3 linked regions of the Homo sapiens genome follow. The protein of the gene in region 2 interacts with the protein of the main gene of each other region in a pairwise test. Each region holds a gene or a part of one and is shown on either strand. Other genes may lie near its edges.

Evidence for each region.
Region 1: the proteins of TSGA10IP (region 2) and TRIM50 interact in binary tests that used the Homo sapiens proteins (3 or more experiments, as listed by UniProt).
Region 3: the proteins of TSGA10IP (region 2) and CEP70 interact in binary tests that used the Homo sapiens proteins (3 or more experiments, as listed by UniProt).

What each region holds. Positions count from the first base shown.
Region 1 is NC_000007.14:73,325,083-73,332,163, reverse strand, and holds the start of TRIM50 (E3 ubiquitin-protein ligase TRIM50), read left to right. Parts: upstream 1-4,081; 5' UTR 4,082-4,264; intron 4,265-6,588; exon of another isoform or gene 6,589-6,699; intron 6,700-7,081. Other genes in the region: inactive peptidyl-prolyl cis-trans isomerase FKBP6, read right to left, coding at 388-507, 1,812-2,014, 2,715-2,804, 3,472-3,589, 3,679-3,735. UniProt on the Homo sapiens protein: E3 ubiquitin-protein ligase that ubiquitinates Beclin-1/BECN1 in a 'Lys-63'-dependent manner enhancing its binding to ULK1. In turn, promotes starvation-induced autophagy activation.
Region 2 is NC_000011.10:65,941,060-65,948,491, reverse strand, and holds the start of TSGA10IP (testis-specific protein 10-interacting protein), read right to left. Parts: upstream 3,013-7,432; 5' UTR 2,817-3,012; coding exon 2,670-2,816; exon of another isoform or gene 2,626-2,669; intron 1,613-2,625; coding exon 1,476-1,612; intron 1,383-1,475; coding exon 664-1,382; intron 492-663; coding exon 344-491; intron 1-343.
Region 3 is NC_000003.12:138,591,261-138,598,917, reverse strand, and holds the start of CEP70 (centrosomal protein of 70 kDa), read left to right. Parts: upstream 1-4,657; 5' UTR 4,658-4,720; exon of another isoform or gene 4,721-5,209; intron 5,210-6,961; 5' UTR 6,962-7,055; coding exon of another isoform or gene 7,056-7,064; intron 7,065-7,657.

The DNA of each region.
Region 1 (7,081 bases), on a different chromosome or scaffold from region 2:
TGCCGGGCGCGGTAGCTCACACCTGTAATCCCAGCACTTTGGGAGGCCGAGGTGGGCAGATCACGAGGTCAGGACATTGAGACCATCCTGGCTAACACGGTGAAACTCTGTCTCTACTAAAAATACAAAAAAATTAGCCAGGTGAAGTGGCGGGTGCCTGTAGTCCCAGCTACTTGGAAGGCTGAGGCAGGAGAATGGCGTGAACCCAGGAGGCGGAGCTTGCAGTGAGCTGAGATTGCGCCACTGCACTCCAGCCTGGGCGACAGAGCGACACTCTTGTCTCAAAAACAAAACAAAACAAAAATCACAACAAAACAAAATCTGTGTTTTTTAAACAAGGAAGTTTTCAGGATCTAAACTTACACTTAACTTTCAAAGCATTCTCACCCTTTTATATCTCACTTTGGCATCATAGAAACGATTCTGGCGGAAAAGGTAGTTGCCAAACTCCCGTTCCGTAGCTGCCACTTTCAGGACCTTCTGAAGTGGAAATTGGTCTTGCTGCTCCTGAGGACCAGAGACAGGAATATTCAGCAAGGAAACCAAAAGCAGTAATGCCACAATGGAAGTGTTAGTACACGTGAGCCCAGGAGTTCGAGACCAGCCTGGGCAACATAGTGAGAACATGTCTCCATTTAAAAAAATAGTAATTGAAAGAAAGGAAGTGTTACTACAGCTGTGAGCTCTTCTTTTTCAGATCATGCACTTCTGTTTACAGCCTTCTGTGTTGGAGTCACCTCTGAATCTGACAGAAGCCACACCAGTGTTATAACCTGTCCCATTTTACACCCTAGAGCCAGAAGGAAGTCTACGTCTTCAGTCTTCCCCTGATGTTCTCTGAGGAAGCAGTGTCCCATGGAATCAAAAACTGACGGAACTTGCCAAGCACAGAAGTCAGTGCTCAAAACCACTATTTGGCCACCAAGCACTGAACAGGTCTTGGTTTGCTCAGGGCCCTGGCAGTCTTTATGGTCATGATGCTCTGCCCTGGCCATCTTCAGAGTCACCCATAGAGCCTCTCTGGTCCCGGCCCCACCCCCCAGATCCTAAATGAGTTCACCACAGGTGGGACGAGGCATTTGCAAGAAACTCGAATCTCAGAATGATGAAAAAGGGTGAGCTCCCTCACTTGGAGTGCTGACAGTTTAGCTGGGGAGACTCCATGTGAAGATATAAACCCTGGCATGGACCTCTAAGGCCACAGATGGAGTCAGTGTGAGACAGCATGATAAAGACAGTGCCTGTGACTGCTGACGGGGTCAGAAGCCCTGCATCTACGGGACAGGGTTAAGTGAAAGGCTACAAAGAGGAGGCAAGACTTAAGTGGTGAGGACAGTGGCCATACATCCCAGTTTGCCTGGGACTGTCTCAGTTTAAACCCGATGTCATGGGTAACCCCTCCAGTGAACAGCCCCTTTTACTCTCACCTGTGCTGGGCTGGACAATCAATTATTCAGTCACCCTAGTTATGAGCTACCAATGCCTGCCTTGCTGGAAACCAAACGATGAAAAGCAAGTGTTCACTGTCTCACAGGGAGAACTAGGCAAAGGATGACTGAAAAATCAGTTCAAACCACTAATCCTTAAACTCACAGCCTTACCTTGCCCAGCACATTTATCTACACATGAGAGCCATTACTAAGACAAACACAGACTAGGAAGCAGAGGAACTCCGCCGCCACCGCACAGGAGCCGCGGGGGTACCCTGGAGAGGACGATCAGCCTCAGGGCAGGCCATCTAGAAGAATTACCAATAACACCAACCCATTCGTCTCTCTATAAAGTGCTGACATCTGTGCTCTGGAACTTACAGCTGAGAGAGCACAAAACTTGTCTGACTCAGCACAGTCCAGGAAGTCAAGCAGCTCAATCTCAAACAGGACAGTGGTGTTTGGGGGGATCAAGGGAGGGCAGCCCAGCGTTCCATAGGCGTAGTTCGGTTTGAACAGAAACCTGGCCAGCTCTCCTCTCCGCATGCTCAGAAGGCCCAGCTCCATGCCCCACAGTGTAATATCTGTAAGAATGGACAAAGAAGGTGGGTGAAGCTTGCTCAGTATCCTGCTCAGTGCTATCAGTTTCTTCCCCCTCTAAGTCAGCAGTACTCTGGCCTCCATGTCTCCCTCACACAGTTCCCTCTTCCTGCAATGTCTTCCTCCTGAGCCTGTGCCCAGCTTCTACTGATATAAATTTTATTCAAACTTCCAGGCTCAGTTCAAATGCCCCCACTTCCAGGAAGCCTTCCCTGAACCTCCCAGCTAGAATTAATCATGCCTTCATTAAGCACACCCACAACACTGCTTTCACCTCCCAGGCACTCATCCGATTCTACCAAGTGAGCTGAGTGCAGGTCAGTCTCCTCCACTACATTGTGAGGTCCTTAAGGGTGGAGATGTTCTAATCTTCTGAGTACATCCTCTCTTTTCACCATGTATTGTGGGAAGTAAGTATTCGATTGAGTTTTACTTAATAAATGAACAAAGAAACATTCCCAGTGGTTAGTTAAGTCAGAGTGCAAAGATTATACCTTGCCCGTTAAGCCATCTCCCAAATGCCTAGGTCTCAAGGGGAGAGAACATGGCTGTGTTACCAAAACCCAGCCTCAGCAAAGCCAACTCAAAGAACCTGCGCTCTGAGCAGTCTTCCCAGCCTGAGGCATCGTGCCTCATCTAGCCCCTAAACAATTCCTTCTTCTCCAGCTCCCACTCTGAACCTACCCTCTCCAAGTTTCATTAGCCGAGGAGTTTTCCTAAAGTAATTAGAATCGAAGGGTCTGTCCATGTGTTCCAGGTATCCCGAGTATTTCACTAGGATAGAAGAAAGAATGTAAGGAAAATGGACCAAAAACACCCACGCCACCATAATATCGAGTCTCTCATGATCACACAGAAACAATGTGAACAGATGAGCTTAAGCTGCCCGACACCCCGAGGTACAGGAATAAATCTTCTCTCTGCATTTTGGGTGCCGGCCCTTTGGCTCAGAGGTTCAAGAGCTTTGCGGAAGCATCACACAAAGGGGACATAGGAGTCCCTAGCTTTCGTCTTAAAAAAACTAATTCAGGCCGGAAGCAGCGGCTCATGCTTGTAATCCCAGCTACTGGGGAGGCTGAGGTGGGAGGCTCACTTGGGTCCAGGAGTCTGAGACCAGCCTGGGCAACATAGAGTCCCCCATATCTACAAAAATATTAAAAATTAGCCGGGCATGGTGGATCGCGCCTGTAAATCCCTTATTTGGGAGGCTGAGGCAGGAGAATCACGAGCCCAGGAGGTGGAGGCTGCAGTGAGCTATGATCGCACCACTGCACTCCAGCCTGGGCAACTGAGCAAGACCCCGTTTCAAAAACAAAAAACAAAAATCCACTTCAAACAAAGCATTTCCAACCCCATTAAGTGCTTTTTGAAAATGAGGCCTCTCTCTTCCCAACAGAGTGCGATGACATGGATCCTGAGGACAAACCGCCCCAGGGCGTACCTAGCACCGAAGCATCAGGCGCCACTAGGTCTCCAGCTCCTTCTCGGATGACGTCCTTCAGCACGCCCCGGTCCCCCGAGATGTCCAGCATCCTCTGACTTAACCGCTCGTACAGGGACTGATGGAGAATGAAAGCCAGGCCTCAGAGCCGCAGACCCACCCGGCCACCCCTCAGCGTCTACGCCCCCGAAACGTCTGGGCCCTCACCTGGCCGGGGGCGTCGTCCCCTTCCAGGACTCCCTGGTTTAACGCGCTTCCCCCCATGTCCTAGCTGCCCTCCCTGTGGCGTGAGCCTTCGGCCTGGTGCGCCCCGCTGCCCTCCCTGGCTGTGACTCTGGTGGGGTTCCGAAGGCCCCTTTATGCCCGGCAGACCCCTACCGACGGCGGCATTCCATTCTGGGGCCACGAGGAGGCACTCATCGTTTCGTTCCAACCGCCGCCAACGGCCCTGGCCCTCGCGAGCTCTGGAACTACAGAGGCCACGCGGTGAGGTGCGAGGTATGATCCGTAATGGGAGCGCACGAAACATGATGGGACACGTAACGGGACCACGCAGGGCACGTTGGGTACGTGCAGGGGCGCGAGGTGGCGGCACGTAATGGGAGCGCGCAGAGCATGATGGGGCACGCGCGGTAGCGCGAGGCGGGGCATGTAACCATAGCGTGCGGGTCATGATGAGGCACGGACGTGGGGGGTTAGGTGGGGCACGTAATTGGAGCTCGCGGGGCAGGATGGGGCATCTAACTGGAGCGACAGAGAGCACGATGGGGCACTTACAGGGGCCGGAGGCTGGGTACGTAACGAGAGCGAGCGGGAAATGATGGGGCACCTAACGAGCACGCAGAGCATGATGGGGCACGGGTGCGAGGTGGGGCGCACAGTGGGAGCGCGTGGGGCATGATGAGACACATGGCGAGGCCATCAGGGCACAGGGGAAGCACTTTTGGAACACGTGAGTGACAGGGCTGCCGCCCTTGAAGGAGCCCTCGGAGTGGCTGCGTGGTGGGGCACGTGGGGCAGGTTCAGGAAAAAGGATGCAGCATGTGATTGCAGGGCAACCTGGTGAGGACACGAGAGCCACCTGCCACCAGCAGGGTTCAGGGCTCCCAGCTGTGGGTTACTTCCACCTTCTTTCACTTTCTCTCTTCCATTGTGTTCTAGAGAATTTAGGCCCAGACAAGACACTGATTGATTGATTGATTGATTGATTGACAGAGGCTCGTTCTGAGCCCAGGCTGGAGTTCAGTGATGGATCTCAGCTCACTGCAGCCGCCACTCCCTGGGCTCAAGAGATCCTCTTGCCTCAGCCTCCCGAGTAGCTGGGATTACAGAACTGCACCACCAGGCCCAGCTAATTTATTTTTTAGTTTTTAATTTGCTGGAAAGATGGTTTGTAGCTTTGTTGCTAGGCTGGTCTTGAACTCCTGGCTTCAAGTGATCCTCCAGTCTTGGCCTCCCAAAGTGCTGGGATTATAGGCGTAAGCTACAGCCAACTTTCAATACTGCCCCATTGGGGGTTAAGTTTCCAACACATGAAATTAGGAGGATACATTCAAACCACAGCAGTATATTATGACCATAATATTCATTAACTGTATAACAGGACAGGCGCGGTGGCTCACACCTGTAATCCCAGCACTTTGGGAGGCCAAAGCCGGTGGATCGCTCCAGGTCAGGAGTTTGAGACCAGCCTGCCCCACATGATGAAACCCCATCTCTACTAAAATTACAAAGAATTAGCCGGGCATGGTGGCAGGCGCCTGTAACCCCAGCTACTTGGGAGGCTGAGGCAGGAGAATCACTTGAACCCGGGAGGCGGAGGTTGCAATGAGCCAGATTGCGCCACTGCACTCCAGCCTGGGTAACAAGAGCAAAACTCTGTCTCAGAAAACAAACAAAACCTGTATAACAGAGTGTCATTGAATTTCTAAACGTTGAAAGACTTCACATTAAAAAAAAAACTCACAATTCAATATTATTGAGTGAAAGTAACCAGACACAAAAGAGTACATTCTATATGATGCTGTTTATGTGAAATTCAAAAACAGTCCACATGACAACATGGTAATAAGGACAGTGGCTGTCCTTGTTAGGAGTTATGACTGGGAGGAGGCAGGAGGGAGCTTTCTGGAATCACTCTACATCTTGTTCTTGAGAGTGGGTGTATATACATCAAGTGTTTATCAAGCTGTGTGGTTAAGATTTGCACACTTGTATATGTTATACCTTGATTTAAAAAATCTAAGTAAATAAGGATACCTTTGAATATCTTAAAAAAAAAAAAAAAAGAGGCCAGGCTTGGTGGCTCACACCTATAATCCCAGCACTTTGGGAGGCTGAGGTAGGAGGATTGCTTGAGGCCGGGAGTTCAAAACCAGCCCAGGCAACAAAGCGAGACCCCTGTCTCTACTAAAATAAATAAAACAATAAAATGAAAAAAAATAGAGAGATTGAATCATCATCTGCCAGTTTGTATTAGAAAAAAAGAGAGAGAGAGGGAAGGCTGGGTGCAGTAAGGCTCACGCCTGTAATCCCAGCACTTTGGGAGGCCAAGGTGGGAGGATTGCTTGAGCCCAGAAGTTGAAGACCAGCCTGGGCAACAAAGCAAGACCCGGTATCTAAAAAAATTTTTTAAATATTAGCTTGGCATGGTGGCATGCACCTGTAGTCCCAGCTACTCAGGCAGCTGAGGTAGGAGGATGGCTTGAGCCTAGGAGTTGGAGGCTACAGTGAGCTATGACCACGCCACTGCACTCCAGCCTGGGCAACAGAGCAACAAGCTGTCTTTCCCCACCCCCCAGCCCCCCCGCCCAAAAAAAGGAGAGTAAGAGCAAGAGTTTGAGATTCAGAAAGAACTGTTTCCCAGCACCTATCTGCTCCTGTTGGGGTCATGAGGTGTGGACGGTGTACCCAGTCCCTCTGTTTCTGCCCCTCCTCCACAGTGGCCAAGGCCAGCACCTGAATGTTATCAGAGCAGGCCCAACAAAGGCTGCCTCCCCAGTCCCGTGATGTAACCCAGTTTCCACCTGATTCTGGTGACCTTGGGGACACAGGGGTGTTGCTGGGAAAGGGGAGGAGAGAAGGGGCAGAGACCAGGCAGTGGTGCAGGCGTCCAGCTGCATTTCCCACTTCTGACTCTGTGCCTGCTGTTCCCTGCTGGGAAGAAGGAAAGCCAGTGATGCTGGCTTGAGGCTGTAGTGGGAGGCCCAGCGGATTGTGAGAAGCCAGGTATTCCAATGTCGGGCTCCCCCGGGGGCTGCTGGTGCTGCTTCTGTCTCATTGACAAGCTTTCATAGGGGAGCAGGTGGGAGATCAGGGTAGAGGCCTTGTAGGTTCCAGGCTCTCTAGAATTACCTGGGAGTGTCACCTATAAGTGTAGAGTTCTGGGTCTCACTGGAGACCCCCTGAAGAAGATCCTTTGAAGGTGGGCCTCTAGAATCTCTATTACACCTATGCTTTCAACAGTTTCCCGAAAGTTTGGGAACTGATCTAGAAGGTGGGGAGCTTGCCTAGGTTTTGCTGTTCAGTTCTAGGTCCGGATGCATGCTGGGGCTGGACCTTGCATTATTAGTGTCACTGCAAATGACCCTGCAGATGGCCCCTTTCATGC
Region 2 (7,432 bases):
ATGAGTAGATAATAAACGTTGCATTAATCACTTAGTTAATAATTTAATGGATGGATGGAACAAAAGATGGGAAATAAAAGTGGTTGTATCAATAGATAATTGGCCAGGTATTGAGAGAGATGGATGAATGGTTGAGTGGATGTTATCAGTAGTTGGATAGATGGATGGATGGGTGGATGGATGGATGGATGGATGGATGGATGGATGGATGGATGATCCAAAAGTTTGGTGAATGGATAAATAAAGAAATGAATGAGAGTTCAAATGCCTAAGCATCTCTTGGAGAAGTGGCTCCATCTCTACTTCTCATTCTGGGCTCCCACTCCCTTCTCTTCCCTCTTACCTGGTGGCTTCCTGTCGTTTGTGGAAGGTGCGATTAGGGAGGTTGGCAGACACGAAAGTTTCATCGTATCCCGAGGCATAGGCCTTTCCATTCCGCTTGGAGGCCTGGAAGGCAGCCCTCAAAGTCTTCCAGGGCAGCTTTTGGGGGCCTGCCCACAGTGGGACCAAGTCAGGGGCTGCCCTCTCCCTCTCAGCCCACCAGGCAACGCCCCCCAGCACCCAGAGCACAGCCCAGCCTGCCTGAGCCCCTGCCTCCCTGACTGCTCCCTGTTCCCTGCGGTGTAGCTTCGGGGGAATCCAGGCTCTGAGCCCCACGCTCACCACAGTCCAGGTCTCTCTGTAGCTGCCTGTGCAGCTTCTCCAGGTCCCATGGCCCCTGCAGCTCCTTGGCCCTTGTCTTCCTCCATTGTCGCCTTCGGAGGTTGTTGAAGCTGGGGCTGCTCCCCTGGCTCTGGCCCTGCACTTCTCCCTCATCGGAGGCTTCCTCTCCAGAAATCTGCCCCTTTCTCTGACAACCAGCCCTCCTTCTGCAGGGAGTCCTGTGCTCTCCCTCCTCAGCCTCCTCTGTGGCCTCTGAAAATTGCTCCTCCTCTGAGATCGACCCCCTCCTGGGGCGCTGGGGCAGCACCCCAGAACTCAGACCCCTCTCGGCCTCCTCAGCACCCAGGCTTTGCAGCTGGACCTGCTTGTCGGACGCCGATCCTGATCCTGGCCTCCTCCCAGGCAGCTGGAGACCACTGGGGGGCTCTGATCCTAGCTCCCCTTTGCCAGTAGGGATGGAGACACCGCCCCAGGCTCCCAGCTGCTGTCTCGCCTTCAGGTTTTGCGCCTCTGTCTTCCAGCAGCAGCCATGGGCCTCTGGGAGGTTGGCCGTGGACTTGCGCCTGGACTGACGCTGGGAGAACGAGGAGGGCATGGGCAGGGCTTGGTGGCCAGGGGTTGGGGAGCTTGGCTGAAGCACAGCCCGGACATCTGTGGCGATGCTCTCCCAGGCCCACTGGAAGGGGAAGGAGGGTTTCCGAGGAAGAAGCGGGAAGTGACTGAAGAAGGAAAGGGTGGGGGTCAGGGTCGGCGCCAGCCCCCAGAGGGCCCTGACCCCCAACAGCCTCCTGACCCATCCCACTGCTGCTTACTCTTCAGACTCTTCAGAGCCCTGTCCTTTCTTGCTCTGGCCCCTGGGCTTGCGGTCCTTCTTTGCTGTCTGCCTTGAGCTCTGAGACCTCTGCTGCAGGTCTTGATTTGGCACACCATCACCACTCCCCAGGCAGCCCTGGGCAGAGACAGTAGGGGAGGAGCAGCCAGCTTGAGCAGCCTCCTGGACTGTGTTGCACCTCACCCGGGTGCTCCCTCTGTGCACCTGGCTGGGCCTGGCTGGGTCCCTCTGGGCCCTCGTTACCATAAAAACCAACCAAACAGGGCTGGATGTGGTGCTCACACCTGTAACCCCAGCACTTTGGGAGGCCAAGGGGGGCGGATCACCTGAGGCCAGGAGTTCGAGACCAGCCTGGCCAACATGGCGAAACCCCATCTGTACTAAAAATACAAAAAAAATTAGCCGAGTGTGGTGGCCTGCGCCTGTAATCCTAGCTACTTGGGAGGCTGAGGCAGGACAATCGCTTGAACCTAGGAGTTGGAGGCTGCAGTGAGCCGAGATTGTGTCATTGCACTCCAGCCTGGGCAACAAGAGTGAAACTCCATCTCAAAAAAACAAACAAACAAAAAAACCCGACCGAGCACCACCTCCGTTCTGCATATTAAAATAGCAACAGCTGCCACCTGCTGAGCACCTATTGTGTGCTCAGGACTTTCATGCATAAACACACGTAACCTTCCCAAGGACCCTAGGAGGCCGGTACTCACTATCACCTCCATCATGTGGAGGAGAAAGCTGAGGCTCAGAGAGGCTGAGTAACTGAGGTCACACAGCTGGGAAGTGGTGGAGCCCAGATTTGTCACCATTGCGCTAGGCCACCTCTGGGCCCTGGACTGCACTCCCAAATGTCCCACTGGGCCCTGGACCTGCTACAGCCAAGGCAGAAACCAAGGTGGTCTTCATCAAGGTGGTCTTCATCTTTCCTGAAACCTGCTCCTTCCGCAGTGTTCCCTGAATGGCCCCATCATCCCTGGGAGTCACTCCTGGGCGTCATCCCTCGGCTTCTCCCAAGGCCCTTAGGCCTCCCTGTGGTCCCTGTCCCACTCCTGCCTCCCTGAGTTTCATCTGGACCTCAGCTCAGGTCTTGTGGCTTCTCAAGGGCCTCCCCAGCCCAGGCCTCCCTGACCCACCTGGCTCTAGGCAGCTGGAAGTGTCCTCACTGGGCCTCCCTCACCTGCTTGTCCTGAGAGACGGTCGACAGCAGCTTGAGCAGCCCCGTTCTGGTTCCTGGAGCCTGGAGCCGCACGTCCTGCCCTGGTCGCACCGACGGGGTCCTAACCAACTGTTGGTAGGTATTTAGCATATCGGTGTCCTGCCCCATCCTGCCCCATCCCCCATCCGCACCGTAGAACTGCCTAACAGGCCATCTCTATGGCAACCAGTCCTCAGCCAGTCTCAATGGGTCTGGCAAAAAGCATGCTAGGAAGGGGTCAGTGGGGTATGTGAGGCCAATCTCCTTCTGGGAGAGAGTTCAGCAGGATGCCCAGGAGTCATTTAGCGCAGAGACCCAGGCCCAAGTCCTGCCTCTGCCTCATCCACAGGCTCCCCGTGTGACCTGGTGTAAGTCCCCTGTCCCTACTCTGCCTGTGTTTCCCCATCCATCTGTACAGGGGAGTCAGCCTGTCTCCTGTGCTGCCCCCCGGCCTGGCCGAGTCCCTGAAGGAGCCAAACTGAACTTTCACAAGATTTTATTTAAATCCTTGCACTCCCAGGCTGGGAGTGGTGGCTCACACCTGTAATCCCAGCACTTTGGGGGGCTGAGGCAGGTGGATCACTGGAGGTCAAGAGTTCAAGACCAGCCTGGCCAAAATGGCAAAACCCCATCTCTACCAAAAATGCAAAAAAGATTAGCCAGGCCTGGTGGCGCATGCCTGTAATCCCAGCTACTCAGGCTGAGGCACGAGAATCACTTGAACCCGGGAGGCAGAGGCTGCATCGACCCCAGATTGCACCACTGCACTCCAGCCAGGGCGACAGAGTGAGACTCTGTCTCAATAAAAAAGAAACAAATAAACAAATCTTTGCACTCCCAGCCCCAGCCAGGAAGTTGAATGCTGTGTCCAGGAGAGAGGCAGCAGGCCATTCAGAGCCTGGGCCCAGGCCCACCTGGCCATCTTCATAGGCCATGAGGTTCTGGAGGGAGTTACAACATTGAAAGCTTACCCCAGGCCGGGCAGTGGCTGTAATTCCAGCACTTTGGGAGGCCGAGGTGGGCGGATTGCCTGAGGTCAGGAGTTGGAGACCAGCCTGGCCAACATGGTGAAACCCCATCTCCCACCTGGATTGAAACTCTATCTCTACTAAAAATACAAAAATTAGCCGGGCATGGTGGTGGGCACCTGTAATCCCAGCTACTCGGGAGGCTGAGGCTCTCCCTCTCCGGGTTCTCTTGAACCCGGGAGGTGGAGGTTGCAGTGAGCCGAGGCCACACCAGTGTACTCCAGCCTGGGCGAAAGAGTGAGACTCCATCTCAAAAAAATATATTTTTTTAATATAAAAAAAGTAAAAGATCTTACCCCAAACTTCTAGCAGTGCTCAAAAGCCTTGGAATCTTAAGTCCCCATGGGACGCCTGGTGCTGACCACTGAGGCTTGCAGTACAGGGATGTGGTGCTGAGCTGAGGCCCTGGAGACGGACCAACTGGGCTGGAGGCCTGGTCTCACTAGCTCTGTGACCAACTCCCCACTCTGCAAAACTGGAATCACGGGCCCAGCTCATAGGTTTGTTGCAAGGACTACATGAAACCCCAAACGATGACATCGGTAAATGTTATTATTACTAACACTAGCTGGCCGTTCTTTTGAGGCAGCAGAGCATCATGGCTAAGAGCATAGAGGAAGCGCTTGGGTGCAAATCCCAGCTCCTCCACTTGTCCCGTACCCTCTCGGTGCCTGTTTTCTCATAGGCAATGGGGAGGGGATGGTTATAATCGGATCTACTCCCAGGGTAGTGGTAAGGATTAAATCACTATGCAGATACAAACAGAACATCCTCATGGCTCATGGGAACTGCTATGTTAGCATTGCTGTTATTCTTATTATCTTTTTTTTTTCTTTTTGTGATGGAGTCTTGCTCTGTTGCCCAGGCTGGAGTGCAGTGATGTGATCTCGGCTCACTGCAACCTCTGCCTCCTGGGTTCAAGCGATTCTCCCACCTCAGCCTCCCGGGTAACTAGGATTACAGGCATGTGCCACCATGCCCGGCTAATTTTTTGTATTTTTAGTAGAGAGAGGGTTTCACCATGTTGGCCAGGCTGGTCTTGAACTCCTGACCTCAAGTGATCCACCCACCTTGGCCTCCCAAAGTGCTGGGATTACAGGTGTGAGCCACTGCACCGGGCCGTGTTGCTGTTATTAATTAATCAATGATGTGGCCCCAGGGAAGCAGACTATCCTGGAAGATGCCATAGAGGCAGGATTTTTCTCAGACTGTGGCCCTGTGGCTCCTCTTCTGCTCTCAGACTCCATCCCAGTGGCACCTCACAATGAGCACATCCAATGTAAATATCCTAAATAGTGCTGCTCCGGGTGAAGCTCTTTTGCCACCCAAAATATGCAAACTCTTTTCTTTCTAGGGGGCTGCCATCCTTCTCCCACACCTGGGGCCCAGTGGAAGGCACATGTAGGCAGCTTCACTTTCAGAAACGGAGCCCCTTCCAGACCTCAACCCCAGGTGATTTCCTGGACAGTCCAGAACTCTGGGCCACTTTCTTCCTTGGCAGAGGGCAGGTCTGGGTTTCTCAGGTTGATATTCTCATGAGGTGCATACAGACCTCTTTCCTTTACCACACTCCCTCCCTAAGTGAGCTCATCCAGTCTGATGGCCTTAAAAGCCACCTGCTGCTTGCTTTCTGAGACAGAGTCTCACTCTGTCACCCCGGCTGGAGTGCAGTAGTGCCATTACAGCTCACTGCAGCCTCAACCTCCCAGGCTCAAGTGATCCTCCCACCTCAGCCACCCGAGTAGCTGGGACTACAGGTACGCGCCACTATGCCCGGCTAATTTTTATATTTTTTGGTAGAGATGGGGTTTTGCCATGTTGTCCAGGCTGGTCTTGAACTCCTGGCCTGCCTCGGCCTCCCAAAGCATTGGGATTACAGGCATGAGCCACTGCGCCAGGCCAGCACCTGCTGTTTTCCACCCGTCCCCAGGTTTACGTATCTCAGCCTGACCTCTCCCATACTTAAATATCCAGTGGCCCATCTGACATCCCCACTTGGATAAATAAGCATTTCAACTTGACATGCTGAAGGTCAGACTACTGGCCTGCCTCATCCCAGTCAGGGGCATGTCTGAGATTCCTGTTGCTCAGGTCAACGCCCTGGCATGATCCTTGACTCTTTCGTTTGACTCACATTCTGCCCCTAATGCCTTAGCAAACCCTACCAGCTCCACCTTTGAAATACATGCAGAATCCAGCACTTCTCCAAACCAACACCCTCTCTCTTCTGGATCATTTCAGTAACGCTTAATCTCCGGCTTTTGCTTATTTATTTATTTTTTATTGACATGGGAGCTCACTATATTTCCCAGGCTGGCCTCGAACTCCTGGCCTCAAGCCATCCACCTGCCTCAGCCTCCCAAAGTGCTGGGATTATGGGCGTGAGCCACCACACCCAACCTCCCGGTTTTTGCTTTTGTCCTGATACCATTCTCTACTCAGCAACCAGTGTGATTCTGTGAAGAATAGAGCCCAGCTGGACGCAGTGGCTCACACCTGTAATCCCAGCACTTTAGGAGGCTGAGGCAGGCGGATGGCTTGAGGCCAGGAGTTCGAGGCCAGCCTGAGCAACATGGCAAACCCCTTCTCTACAAAAAATAATACTAAAATTAGCCAGGTGTGGTGGAGTATGCCTGTGATCTCAGCTACTAGAGAAGTTAAGGTAGGAGGACCACTTGAGCCCAGGAGGCAGAATGAGCCCTGATTGCACCACTGCACTCCAGCCTGGGTAACAGAGCAAGACCTTAACTAAAAAAAAAAAACAAAAAAAAAAAAACAGAGTCCATCACGCCTGTGATGGGTCCTGGGTCTCGCTGAGTAAAAGGCAAAGTCCTTACTGGCCCACTAGGTCCTGCATGTTTCACAGGTGTTTGCTCACAAGTGCCACCATGATCCCTTCTCACTCCGATCCAACCACACTCTCCCTTCGGTACGCCAGCCAGTCTGCCCTAAGGCCCTTTGCACCGACTGTTTCTTCTTCCTGAAATGCTCTCTCCCCAGAATCCACATGGCTTACTCCTTCAGGACCTCTAGGTTTCTGCTAAAATGACACCTGCCAAAGAAGCCCTCCCTGCCCAGATCCCCTAAGTCCCTAATAGGCACCACCATTTGCTCTGCTTCTCTTATCACCGCTTCACACACATTCATTCATTTGCTGATTGCCTGCTCAGCGATGTGGCTCCGGCCGTCCTCCCACTCTCTCCTGCATCAGCAATGTCTCATCTCTCTGGCATCATTTCCATCAGCACTACTGTTCCTTCTTTCTTGACTCACTTCCCCTTCTTCAACACTGCCCCATTTCTGTGTTCCCTTTGCAGCAAAGCCTTCTGAAAGAGTTTTCACTGGGCAAGGTCAATTTCCCCCTTGCCTTTCTTTCTTGAACCCACTCCAGGCAGGCTGTCACCCCCACCACCCTGTGAGCCTGCACCTGCCAAAATCACCGATGCCTTCCCTCCCACTAACATGAGGTCAGTGGCCAGCTCTTCCCCAGCTCCTCTGCCAGTTCCTCCTCCTCTTGCAGGAGAGGGACAGCTGCCCCGTCTGTCTTCTTTGTCCACAGCTACTCTGTTGCCCAGGCTGGAGTGCAGTGGTGAGATCTTGACTCACCACAACTTCCGCCTCCCAGGTTCAAGTGATTCTCCTGCCTCAACCTCCGAAGTAGCTGGGACTACAGGCGCAAACCACCATGCCTGGCTAATTTTTGTATTTTTAGTAGAG
Region 3 (7,657 bases), on a different chromosome or scaffold from region 2:
AAATAAATTGTGGTAGCCATTCTTCAAGATGGGCCCCAGGGATCCCCACTTCATGGTATTCATCTCCTTGTGTAGTCCTCTCACATTTTACCACGGTTGGTCTATGTGACCAATAGCATATGGCAGAAGTAGTGATATGTAACTTCTGAGATTAGGTTATAAAAAAGACTGCGGTTTCTGTTTTAGTTGCTCACATGCTGTCTTTGGGCTGTGTACTCTGTGGGAAGCTGCCATGTTATGAGGACACTAAGGCAGCCTGGGGAAAGGCCCACTTGAGGAGGAATGAACTGAGGCTTGCCAATAGCCGCATGAGTGAGTTTGAATGTGAATCCTTTAGCCCCACCTGAACCTTGAGATGACAGTAGCCCAGACCAAAAGGTTGACTGAAACCCCATGAAAGATCTTGTCCAGACCATCCAGCTAAGCCCTACTGTATTCCTGACCCACAGAAACATTGTGATGATAAATGTTTATTTTAAGCTGCTATGTTTTAGGGTAATTTTTATGTACCAATAGATAACTAATACACAGACATTAGCAATAACTAATACACAGTAAATAATTGCAAATTGTAATAAATGCATATACCAATCTGATGGTAAAGCAGATGTCTGTCACAAGAAGTGGTATGGTCAAGTGGTTAATGACATAGGCTTTGGAGCCTGAATGCCTAGGTTCAGATCCTGGCTTTGCCATATACTAGTGTGTGACCGTGGCAAATCATTTCAAAATTTTTTTGGCTTCTATTTCCTAACTTGCTCATTTGTAAAACAGATAATAACAGTACTTATATTAAGGTTGTTGCGAAGATTCAACAAGTTAGAAAATGAAAGTGCTTAGCTCGGAGCCTAGCACATTTTAAGTGCCCAATTAACATAACTATTGTTATTCTGTATGGATTATTGAGCATTTGTCATTAATATATTTGCCTCAGCTGTTTGCATATTGTCCTTCACATTGGAAAATGACTACTGAAGGTGAATGCTCTGAATAAATTTGACTCAAATTTAACAATGTAGTTCTGAAAGAAGAGAAAGACCCTCTCATATTATTTTATATTGTTTTATACTCAGTACCTGTTTTAAGAAAAAACAACAAGGAAGTAAAACCAAAGACAGGCAGCCCGGCGCCTGGCCCGAAACCAGGCCTGGGCCTGCCTGGCCTAAACCCAGTAGTTAAAAATCAACTCATAACTTAGAAACCGATGTTATTCATAGATTCCAGACATTGTATAGAAGAACATTGTGAAACTCCCTGCCCTGTTCTGTTTCTCTCTGACCACCAGTACATGCAGTCCCTGTCACATACCCCCTGCTTGCTCAAATCAATCACAACCCTTTCATGTGAAATCTTTAGTGTTGTGAGCCCTTAAAAGGGACAGACATTGTGCACTCAGGGAGCTCGGATTTTAAGGCAGTAGCTTGCTGATGCTCCCAGCTGAATAAAGCCCTTCCTTATACAACTCAGCGTCTGAGAGGTTTTGTCTGTGGTTAGTCCTGCTACAGTTCAAAGCTGTGTTTAGCACCTACTGTGCACCAAGGAAATATGCTAGCTGCAGGATGAAGTTTAGTAAGACATGGTTCATGTTCCCAGGGGTTCAAATTCTTGTGGAAAAGGCAGAAACAAATGTATTCATGTAATAAAGGAATCTAAGTCTAAAAAACTTATGAGTTGAAGAATCTTTGAGAATTCATCATGATTACCATTACATATGATATACTCATGTTTTTCTAGGGAGAAATATGACAGTTCTATACCCAGAAGAAAATTTGAGAATCAGTTTAGAAGTTGAGAAATTAGGCCGGGTGCAGTGGCTCACGCCTGTAATCCCAGCACTTTGGGAGGCCGAAGCAGGTGGATCACAAGGTCAAGAGATTGATACCATCCTGGCTAACACAGTGAAACCCCTAAAAATACCAAAAAAAAAAAAAAATTAGCCAGGCGTGGTGGCAGGCGCCTGTAGTCACAGCTACTCGGGAGGCTGAGGCAGGAGAATGGCGTGAACTGGGGGGTGGAGCTTGCAGTGAGCCACGATCACGCCACTGCACTATAGCCTGGGCAAGAGCGAGACTCCCGTCTCAAAAAAAAAAAAAAGAAGTTGAGAAATAAAAGATGTGTTTTAACTGCTAATGAAAGTTATAATTTATGCTAGGAAGCCAAAGTACAGAGGAAAGCAGAAAGCCGAAATGAAGACATGCTTGGCTTTCAACTTAAGTGTCACTTCATCAGAGAGGCTTCCTCCATAGCCCCTCTTCTCTTCTTTGATATCACTTATTATATTAATAATATATACTTAATTGCATTTGTTTCATATTTTCTCCGCAGTTAGACTATAAGATCCACGAAGGCAGGAATCACAACTGGGCTTACTTACTATTGTAAACTCCCCCACTTATAAATCTGACTCAGCATCTAGTTCAATCCCTGGTACAAAACAGGTGCTTAACAAAAAAATTTTTTTTTTTTTGAGACGGAGTTTTGCTCTTGTTGCCCAGGCTAGAGTGCAATGGTGAGATCTCGGCTCACCGCAACCTCCGCCTCCCGGGTTCAAGCGATTCTCCTGCCTCAGCCTCCTAAGTAGCTGGGATTACAGGCATGTGCCACCACACCCGGCCAATTTTGTATTTTTAGTAGAGATGGGGTTTCCCCATGTTGGCTAGGCTGTTGTCGAACTCCTGACCTCAGGTGATCCACCTACCTTGGCCTCCCAAAGTGCTGGGATTACAGGCGTGAGCCACTGTGCCCGGCCAACACATTTTTATAAATGAATGAATGTTAAATGAATGTTTAGAATTATTAGAATTCTATTGGGTAGATGAGGCCCATAGAAAACTCTTGAGACCAATGTAGCAGGATTCTCAGTGAAAGACTAAGTTTGTGTGCAGGGATGTTTTCCTTCTCTAGCAAAGAGAGGTGCTGGAAAGGCTTTCATGGTCCATAAGAAGGGAATTGTTTTGGAGGGCAGTGCTATAGCAACTCTTCCCCTCCATTCACCACATAAAAAATTCAGTTAGAAAATAGAGAGGAATCAGCCTTCTTGTGCTTTGAAGACTGTGAAAGATACTGGTGATCATCCATCTAGCATCCATTTTCCTCTTCTCCTTTACAGGTCTCCAGTTTTATTCAAATAGCCATGTCTCCACCTTGCAACTCATGTGACTCAAAGAGCACTGACACCATTGCCAATTCCAATTGTCATAGCTCCTTTTCACTTCTGGAACCCAGGCTTAAGCTGTCTGTACATTTCCCAGGCAGTTACTGGTAAAGAGGAAGAGTGTGTGCCTGTGTGAACTTATTGGCTCAAAAAACCAGAAGGAAAGGTTTTAGATGAAAAAGAAAGTATGTGGTCCTGATTTCTCCAAGTAGACATCTGGAAAATCACGTTAGTATGAATTTGAAGTCTACCCTTTTTTTTTTTTACAACAAAGCAGAGACTAATAGCAACTGGGTCCTTGTTAACTTGCTTAGCCACTGAATTAATCAAAGTCTCCCTTGCCTCTGAGCTTTCTGTTATGCGAGATAAGCAACTTCTTTATTTTTTAGGAAGACAGTTTAACTCAGATTCTATATCACGTGCATCCAAAATAATAATAACTGACTCAAAGATGTTTGGCCTCTACAATTAGGGCAGCCATTCTCAGAAGAGTATGCAAGGGCACCCTATTATCTTGGAAAAGGGAAGCACTGAGACTATTTGCATTTTGAGAACTGAAAATGCAATCTGCTAACCGTCGTTAGAGTGAATATCCAGGTATGGAAAGCACAGTGGGTAGGCGTAGGTTGGGGTAGGGACATGTTTGCATGGGGCAAACACAGAGATCAAACCTAAGTGTAGTCCCAGCTGCCTGGAAGAAGGCTAAGAAGGGTCTGAAAGTATTGAGCTCCAAGAGCCCTTGGATCTCCTGATGAGAGACCCTTGGCTGATGCCCTAGATGGGACATCCCTGTTGGCTACTGTGGGACCTGCATCATTTGACTGCAACACAGTCTGTTGCAACATTTGACTGTAACACAGACCTACATCATTTGACTGATTTGAAAAGACAAGTTGTCAACAGCGACACCATGTGGCTATAAGATACAATGACAATGGTGGACAGCTACAGCCTCAGGTAGGGCCTGACGCTTCGTCGAGATGTGGAAAATGCTGAATGGGAAGATGAACTGTCGTCAACAAATATTTATTGGGGTCCTCCAAATGTCAGCTGCTACAGTGGTCATTCAGGTCTGGAACATCGAGAACATGCTGACCCGTACCCCAGCAAGGGCTCGTAGTCGCGGCGGGGTAGGGGGCGAGAGAGAGGGCAGTCTCTGGTGGCCAGGTAACCCAGGCTTCACTTTCACCCACGGCCACAAGTATTTCTGACGTCTTCCGGGCAAATAAGCCTCCATGTAAGTGACAGGGCACCCAAGGAGTGCGTTGGAAGCGCCAGCGTGCCCGAGACCAGCACATCGCACCGACGCCTTCGTTTGCGGTAAGCCCCGCCCCCCGTAGTGAGCCAACCGGAGGGAGCGGGGCGGACCCAGCTTCCCGGAGAGGCTGGAGAGAATCGTTTGGGGGCATTCGCAGGCCAAAGAGGGGCTGGCCCTCGACGCGCTCGGGCTCGATTGGCCGCCCTCCCCCGGCGGTGGTAACGGTCGCGGAGGCGGGGCCTGACGTAGCTGATCCCAGCCTAACCTGGCCCGGCTGGCTGCTGGTGGGAGGCCGGCGACTGAGTAAGGTGAGTGGCTCTCGGGGCTCTCAGAGGCGTCGGCGTGAGCCCCTTCCCGGAGTACCCCGGACTTGACCTCACCTGGGCCTAAAAGTGGTCAGACTGACCCTTGTCGGGGAGGAGCCATCTGGGACAGGGTCGCGCCAATTAAAAATCCCTGCGTAAGGGTTTGGGGATCGGACAAAACTGCCTCCAGTCCCAGCTCCCCAGGCTTTGTGTTCTTTGGCTTCTCCTTTAATGTCTCAGCGCCTCCGATTCTTTATTTGTATACTAAAGCTGGTAATTCTTGCCTTACAAGGTGGTTGTGAGGGTTAAATGAGGCAGTAAGAGTAAAGCTTAGAATCACGTCGGGCACAGACTCGATTTAAGCTGTAGGTAATTACTCCATCCCCCAAAATCGACCCGGGCTGAAGCGCTAGTTTTGTGTCAAACAACCGCGAAGGTTGTTTGGGGAGTGAGGACTCGGAGCAGAAGGGGGCGGTTAGGCGAATAGCACAGGTGAGTATCTCTTTCTCCAGTTTATTAACCTCATTCCGGATTCAGGAGACCTCTGACTTTATACAGGGCCTAATAGGAGTTTTTCAAGGTGAAAAATGCCAGAAGGCTAAGTCACCTGTAACAGAGAGACCAATCAGAGTTTCCTTTTTTACTGCCACTTTGTTTTTCAATCAATGATATTAAACAGGCAGGGCGCAGTGGCTTACGCCTGTAATCTCAGCACTTTGGGAGGCCGAGGTGGGCGGATCCCCTGAGGTCAGGAGTTCGAGACCACCCTGGCCAACATGATGAAACCACGTCTCTACTAAAAATACAAAAATTAGCTGGGCATGGTGGTGTGCGCCTGTAATCCCAGCTACTCGGGCGGGTGAGGCAGCAGAATCGCTTGAACTCGGGAGGCGGAGGTTGCTGTGAGCCGAGATCGCGCCACTGCACTCCAGCCTGGGTGACGGAGCGAGACTCTGTCTCAAAAATATATGTATAATATATTAAACTCTGTGCAGGCATTACCCATATTGGTTTCAAGCCTCTGCATGAGTTTTGTACTTTAAATATTGCCAAGTAGACTCTGGCCTCCCCTGCCCCGCCTTTTGGGGAAGAGGTGGCTGACTTGGAGTTTTCCCTACAGCTTTTGCTTCAAAGCAAGGTTCTGCCCCTTCATGTCACCTCTCCTGAGACAGAATGATTTGGTTGAGATGACATTCCATTTTAACTCTTTCCTATTTGGGGTAAGTTCAGCTCTTTCTTAGGAACATTAAACAGCAAGTTGCAATATTTTTAGAATAGAGCTTTTGCATTTAATAAGGAATAGAGACTTCGAAAGGGTTACATGTTCATTTATTGCAGTAATTTGAAGTATATACTTTTGAAGATGCTTACAGATTTTGGTGTGATTCAGTTGAGAAGGAACAGTTATTGGCCATGGTTTATTGTCAGCTCCCCTCCCCCACCCCAAATGGTGAAAAAAATAATTAAATTTTAAGATATGGAGCATGTTACAAGGGGCTTCAGACCTATAAAGGGCAATTTGGCTGAAAGACTCGGGAAACCTAGAAAGTGCCAGAAGATGCAATTATGTTTTTGCTTTTCTATGCTTGGCTTACTATGCCATGTACAAATCAACTCCTACCCTCCGACTCCTACCCCCCGACTCCTACCCCCAACAATCTTATTTTAAGTGTGTTATGACAGTAATTAAAGCTGTAGCTTCTGTTTTGGCCCTAGAAAGCATTTGGTCTCTTCCTGTGACTTTAAAGTTCCAGACCTTTGTCCTGTCACAGCCTGTAGTGGGGAAAAGGCTGCTGCAAACTATTGGCCCGTTTATTTCACAGAATGGTCCTCTGAAAAGGAGGGCTTGGTCACAGGTGCAAATGAGGAGTAGTTTTGTTCCTGTGTTTGCTTTTGTGATCAGTGGTAGTTTGTCTGAGGATGCTTCATTTTAGTATCCTTGCAAATGAGAATATCCTACCTGTGGAGCCAGAAGTCAGAATTGATGATAGATGATGATAGATTTGGATACCCAGCTAAATGTCTTAACAAGGTAGGGAGAGGAAAGATAAGAAGGAGAGAGAAGAGAAGGGAAGAGGCATATGATGGTGAGCTGGGAAGGCCATTAGCAGTTATTTCAGTTGTGCCTGCTTTATCTGTGATTACCAGTACCTTGGATGCCTGCTCTGGGAGTAACACAAGACCATTCTTACTAGGAGGTTGAACATTTCAAGATTTTGTTCTTTTTATCTTTTTGAAACCTAGATGAAGATCCAGTTTCAGACATGAGACTCGTTGGGTGATCATTTCATTGAGATCAACCTGAATGACCAGGTGTAAAGTGCAAGAGTAATATGCTATGACTGAGGTATGTCTAATGTAACGGATGACTCCAGATGTTGGGAGGCCATGGAAAAAAATCTAATATTTATTGAGTACTATACTAGGTTCATTACATATATTTCCTTTTGACTTCCTGATAATCCTATCAGGTAGATATTTTACAACTCAGCAAAGAAGCTGAAGCTCAGAGAGGTTAAATACCTACTTAAGATAACACAGAAAGCTGATCACCAACTCTAATCACAGTCTCCATCCTGCTGTGTGCCAGACAATGCTTTATGTTCTTTCTATATTAACTCTTCTAATCTTTAACTCGTGAGCTGAGTACTTTTATTATCCTTATTTTATGATGAGGAAATTGAAGCACACAGAGATTAGTACTGTACTCTCCTGGCTGTGTGGCAGAATCCATGATTTGAACCCAGGCAGTCTGGCTACAGAGCTCTGCAGGTTGAGTATCCCTTACCTGCAATGCTTGGAACTATGTTTTGGACTTTTAGATTAAAAAAAAAATTGGAATATTTGTATATACATGAGGTATCTTGTTTAGAGTTGGGTAACTCTAAACACAAAATTCATTTATTGTTTCATATACAGCTTATACACACAGCCTGAAGC